2 linked regions of the Homo sapiens genome follow. The protein of the gene in region 2 purifies or fractionates together with the protein of the main gene of each other region. This does not show direct contact. Each region holds a gene or a part of one and is shown on either strand. Other genes may lie near its edges.

Region 1 (3,835 bases), on a different chromosome or scaffold from region 2:
GCAGAGAAATGGTTACTGTTCAACTTTCTTAGTATACCATAAGAATGTAAAAATGAAAACATGCTTACCTATTGTGTTTGCAATGCTCTGGCCTGTGACAGATGCACATACTCTTAAAGAAAAGCTATAGAAAATAGTAGTAATTTATTGGTTAATAAAGTTTTGAATCTAAAGTAGAAGCCTTCCTTTACCTAATCCCAGATAACGAATATCATTTTCTCTATATATTTCTAATTACACACACACACACACACACACCCACACACACACCCCTTCTACCAATTGATCTCAACACTAATACAATCAAGACAAGTGACATTATTATTACATGGAAGGTAATACTGGAAAATAGTACAGGAGGTTAACTGATTTAATCAGTTGCTCAATTAGTCAATTACTTGTTGCTTTTATTCAATGAATACAGGTCAGTATCTTCCATGTGCCAGGGAGGGAAGAATTAGGCAGCAGAGCAAGAGGATAGCCAGAGGTAAAATCTGGAGGTGAGTAAGAATCTGGACCCATTTGAGGAAACTGAAGAAATTCAGTGTAGTCGGGGCACTGAGCAAGATGGCAAAGTTGTAGGAGGCAAGGCTGGCTTGGTGGATCGGTGAGGAACAGGGCTTTGAAAGTCATGCTAAAAAATGCAGATTTAATCTTCAGAAGCATGGAGCACATGGTATGCTTAACTTAAAACACCCACTCTGCTTGGAAGGAGATGAAATTTGGCAGAACCTTGCTACAGTTGGGGTAAGACTGGAGGTTGAGACGAGAAGAGGGAGGGGAGAAAGAGAAAACAGGAAGTTTAGCATGGCTGTCTCAAGCTAGGTGGGCACAATGATATAGGAATAAAGACAATCAAGAGAGGGCAGATGTCCATGAGAGACACTTTGGAGTTGTGCCTTGAACACACCATCACTACCATTCAAGGCAATGTCTGCACTGGCTTATAGGATGATCTGCACTTGGCTTTGGTCTGTGGCTACAGATGGAATGAGAGACGACTGACTCCCTGGCTGCCTTTGTTGAATGAAAGTGCTCACCTCTCCCTGAAAAATTCCAAGCCCTAACAGCTATCACTAGAGATGGGGCCTTTTCACATTTCTAGGAAAGTGAAAATATAAGAAAATACTTAAGTATGGTTTAATGACAGTCATAAACTTTTACCAGTAAAATACTATAGTATGATGTGGATATTTCTACAGAATTCAAAGGGAGTAAATAATCCCCAATCATACTTTAATTATGTGTCAGCTTCCTGTGTCAAATATAATGAAAAAGTGTCACATCTGGGATTCATCTATCTGCTGTGACCTCAGTCAATGTCTCCCCTCAGGGTAAATAATTTGCCACATACCATTAAGCCAAAAGTTTCCTGAAATGTCTACGCTATTACAAGTGTTTATTCCGCTTCCCCAGAGAAATCACTGATTCCAACTTGCTTCTGCTTCAATTAGAATTATTCAAGAAAGATGAAGAGTTAATCACATCTTTCAATTTTGTAGTAAGCCTGGCTTTCAAAATTAGAATTTTTCTGTATCCAACCTTTTTGAAAGTATTTTGGTGTATGTTCAAATCAGCCAATGATCTTTTTTTCCATTCATCTTTAACTGTGTAGACCAAAGCCATTAGCTTTTATAAAATAAATTCCTATTTGTAATGACATTATCAACATATATACATTAAAATCATTTTAGATACAGTATTTTTAATACAAACAATTCAAAATAACTAATTTTTAAAAAGGAATAAAGTTATACAAATGAACATTTTTTTCCTTATGGGATGGTATATAGTTGATAAATGATGTTATCAGCTAAAGGGTTACTATTTATTTATGAATTACCTGTCAGTATAAATCTCTATTTCTTTCTTAGCTCACTCTTTCTGTTTTCTGAATATCATTACCAAATGGATGACTTTAACTTTTTTTTCATACAAGTGTAATATCACTGCTACAATGTACTGAATTCTCAATAATAGCACTCCAACCTAAACCTGCCAGTTAATAGATTACTTTAGTGGAAAAGAGTCTGTGAAGTCATAATTTTTCAAACTCTGTGTTATGATCTAAAGAAAATTTCAAGATTTTATAGTAGTGGGCTGATGTGTTCATGCTGAATTTAGGAAAACATACTATATTATATATAAGCACACATACATCACAGGTCATATGGAGCATAGAATTAGGATCACTTGCAGGCCTACAGCTAATTACAAAGTATACTTGGGTCATTAGGGAAAGCTGTAAACTTTCATTAAATTAGAATTAAAATTTCAAACTAGAAATATTGGTCATTTTCAGTATGGCCCATTAGTCTAAATAGGTCTGATTGGAACAAAAAAACCCATCAAATCAATCCAAGTCCCTTATTACATAAATTCTAAATTAAACTGTTTGTGGACAGTGCTTTTGATATGGCCAGAAGGCAGGGTGATACACTACATGATCTTCTGAGGCTAGTCCCAACCCAAGCACGGTTGGAATAATGATTCTGCGTTGTGACTGTGCTCACAGCTGTCTATGATGAAGAGAAAATGAGATAAATGTGAAACACGATTTAAAAGTACAAAGCAATTCATTTTACATTCTCATCAGTTTTCACTCCTATTTCAGTGATAGCAAATAGCAGGTTTCACACAGTCACTCACATCTGACAAGTTTTTTTAATCAGGTTGGACAACTGGGTCGTTACTCACTTTTACATTTCTAAAATGAAGTATTTCGCTAGTTTTTCTTTTTGTAATTGGTTAGTCACCAGTTATATTAATATTTATTGAGCTGGCTTTTTTCCCCCTTTTTCTAACTTAGAAATACCAATTAAAGATAGATACTTTATAAAACTACACCGCTGTTTGAAAGACACAGAAATCCACATCGATGGAAGTGAAGAACTATTTGCCAAGTAGAGTTTATGTGATAGTTTTCAGATGTATGATATAAAGTTATATCAAATACAGACACAAATAACAGCAGAGAAAATCAACGGAGACCTTTCAATCATTTTGGAAAAACTAAGCTAAGTTCCTAAAATAAAGAAAAAAGAGAATCAAAGAAACACATTCTAGACTGAACCAGCTGTTAACTTTCTGTCTTCTGAGGCTCTGAGGCACCATTCACAAATTTTGCATGTGAAAATAAGACTTCTTCCAGAAAAATGTATGCAATAGAAACAAATATAATTGTAAAGGGATATACATTTGTCCACATAACAAATTGCACTTTATCTTAATAATATGATTAAATGCAGTAAGAAAATGGCTCATGAAAAGAAAGACATTTTCTTGTTAAAAAGTAATATTCTTTCCATAAAACCAAACAGAACTCTTTTTTTTTTTTTTTTTTGAGACAGAGTCTCCCTCTGTCACCCAGGCTGGAGTGCAGTGGTGCGATCTCAGCTCACTGCAAGCTCCGCCTCCCAGGTTCATGCCATTCTCCTGCCTCAGCCTCCTGAGTAGCTGGGACTACAGGTGCCCGCCACCGCGCCCAGCTAATTTTTTGTATTTTTAGTAGAGACAGGGTTTCACCATGGTCTCGATCTCCTGACCTCGTGATCTGCCCGCCTTGGCCTCCCAAAGTGCTGGGATTACAGGCGTGAGCCACCGCGCCCGGCCCCAAACAGAACTCTTAATCTGGTTAAAAAAAAAAAAAAAAAACCACACACTTCAGTCTTATACAAATATGCATTAAACTAAAAACCCTTAGAATCAATTATCTAGTTCAAAACAACAACATTCTATATCAGAGTGTACCACATGTGCTTAAAGGAATTCAGCCTAGAAGTCCATTCTGTTATGAAGGTGTGAACATGAGCCTATTTGGGGGAAATACTGAAGT
Region 2 (2,895 bases):
TAGTCCCTCCCATGCCCCATTTCATGCATTGGATAAATCCAGGATCTAGATCATGGCTGTAAAACTTAGCAAATATTTGATTTTATGAGCCTCAATTTTCCTATCTGGAAGGCACATCTGATGATGATATTCCTGTCCTGGGACTTCTGAGAGAGCCATTCCCAGCTCTGCCTCAGGTAAAGAATGAATTGCTGTTTGGGAAGCCCTCATTGCATCACATAACCCTGGGATCACAGCAGTGACTGGTTAAGGGGGCCCTGGACAGTGTTCTCACAGTTGGGGGCAGTTTCTAGACCTCTAACATGAAGATATTTAGAGCAAGAAAGACATGCATCCATGAGTTGGAAATTCTCAAATTTTCCGCAGGCCATTTTCTAGTTCATGAGACACAGATGTAAGGAAAACACTCTGCTTATTACTAATTAGGGCTTTGGAACCACATCCTATACAAATTTTTTTATCTTATGAGATGAATGAGGACTTTGGTGAGCTCTCATGTAAGGTGTGAAGCAGTGTTTGGAATAATAGGAAACATGGACTGTCTGCATCATACCTCCCTAGAGTGCTGCCTGGAATCCAGATTCCTGGCTCTACCATAGATTCAGGAAATTAGGATGATGCAGCCAGAATTAGACATTTTTTAAAAATTATTGATTAGTGAGCATTTCTGGGCTAAACTAAAAGCAGTTTGGGTGGCTCCTTTAGGCCTCTTTCTTCTGAGACCATGTCCTTATGTTTGAAATGCTTGTTCCTCGGTGTCGTAAAGAAATAGCACTTGAACATAAATTTATTTAGTAAGGCCATTTTTACTTCCTGCAGAAAGGGTACACTTGCCAGCAGTTTTGCCACAAGAGTACACCGAACAAAGGAGACAGGGTCATTTATAACCTGACGCGTCCACCCTACTGCTGTGTCCGGTTTCCATTGGCTGGAACAGGACCTCACATTCTGTATTTGTCCCGATTGGCTAGCAATTTAGAACTTTTAAAAGAGGCAAAGGTAGAGGAGAACAAAGGAATGAGGAAGTAACTTGTGGAATGCTGAGAAAGGTAAAAACACTTCTAAATAAGGAAGAGGAACAGGCTATGACCTAATGCTTGGACCAGTATAAGCATGCCAGGGCAAATACTTAGGCTAAATTGTGGGAGCTAAGAACATAAAGTACATTGATTTCTTTATTATGACTAGCAGATATTTAAGAATGTTAGTACAGGTCTGTGAATACATTTTGCTTCTAAAAGAAGTTACTACTTATTTCTAATTAGATAGGGAGGAAAGTCTTTGAAGAGGAACCTCTACTTTACTTTTTACATTTACTTTGGTCTTACCACTCCCAAACCAGTGGAGGAGGCTCAAGGTTTCTGGAAAAGGAAGGGATTCAGTCAAGTAAACAATACTATTTGAAAATTCTAGAAACCAAAAACATTTTTTTTTTATGGGAAAAGAGTTCAAGGAGAAAAAAAGGAAGGCACTTCAAGTTTTAGGAAAAACAATGACATCTGTAAGATAACATAATAGTTGAAGTAAAAAAGCAAACTCAGAACTATGGGAGTGACATCAAAGTAGCTAAACACTATCTCTGGAGGAGGGAACTGTGGTAGGAAGGTTGACTTTCAGTATTATTTAAATTGATATTATGTTTGCTTTTTATCTTAATAAAAAATAAAAGAATATTTAGAAATAGTTTCAGTTGTGTAAGTGCATCAAAACATGAAAACAAAAATTATCTTTGTATCTCTCACACATTTATTCAAAGTTTGTCTTACCAGGATCATAATATTTAGCTTGAAGCCTTTTAAAAAATGTCAAGAAGTATGAATTTTAAAAAATTTGTCCCTGGTAATACTGCAAGGGTATAGGGCTATTAGAAGAAAACTGGATTTCCACTCTACTTCTGAAAGGCAGTTCTGATTACAAAAGTTAGGTGATTATCTGGCCAGGAAACAGGAGCTTTGATCCTCTGGAACTGTACTAAACAATTTAGAGCGAATGAATCAGGCCCCAGGGTGCCAAGAGGAATTCAGTAATTTCTCTGTGATTGTTTTCTTTCAGGCCTAATCTCATAAATGTTTTAGTCTCTGTTATCATATTTTTACATGTGTTTGCTTCATAAAAGTAAGTGCTTTTATGCTAATAAAAAGGGGTTCTTCCGAGAGGTGGAGCGTGCAGTGAGCCAAGATCACGCCACTGCACTCCAGCCTGGGTGACAGAGCAAGACTCCATCTCAAAAAAAAAAGGGGGTTCTTCTATTCTTCTATTTGAATTGCCTAATAAAGGCAATCAGGGCACCATTGCCTAAGGAACTCAGTCATTGACCATACATATATATGTATATTATCTATCTATCTATCTATCTATCTATCATCTATCTCTATCATCTATCTATGTATCTATCTATCATCTATCTATCTTTATTAGTCAGTTCTGATTGCTACAAAAAATGCCACAGACTGGTAGCTTAAACAACATTCAATTATTTTCTACAATTCTAAAGGTTAGGAAGTCCAAGATAAAGACAAATTCTGTTTCTTGTGAGGACTCTTTTCCTGGCTTACAGACTGTTACCTTGTTGGTATACCTTCACATGGCAATTAGAGAAAGCACTGGTATTTCTTCTCATAAAGGCGCAAATCCCATCATGGGGGTTTCATTTTCATGACTTCATCTAAACCTAATCACCTCCCCAAAGCCTCACCTCCTAATACCATCACACTGGAAGTTAGGCTTCAAAATATCAATTTTTGGGGGTACACAAACATTCAGTCCATAACGTTATCATCTATCTATCTATCTATCTATCATCTAATCTATCCATCCGTCTATCCATCCCTATGTATATAACAAATTACAACAAAAGCTTATAAGTCATTTCTCCATATTATTTCATTTTATCCT

Evidence for each region.
Region 1: the proteins of NPAP1 (region 2) and ITGA8 purify together in Homo sapiens (affinity purification with mass spectrometry; one large-scale study listed by BioGRID and IntAct). This does not show direct contact.

Annotation. Positions count from the first base shown.
Region 1 is NC_000010.11:15,608,167-15,612,001, forward strand, and holds part of ITGA8 (integrin alpha-8 isoform 1 preproprotein), read right to left. Parts: intron 125-3,835; coding exon 69-124; intron 1-68. UniProt on the Homo sapiens protein: Integrin alpha-8/beta-1 functions in the genesis of kidney and probably of other organs by regulating the recruitment of mesenchymal cells into epithelial structures.
Region 2 is NC_000015.10:24,681,285-24,684,179, reverse strand, and holds the end of NPAP1 (nuclear pore-associated protein 1), read right to left. Parts: 3' UTR 787-2,895; downstream 1-786. UniProt on the Homo sapiens protein: May be involved in spermatogenesis.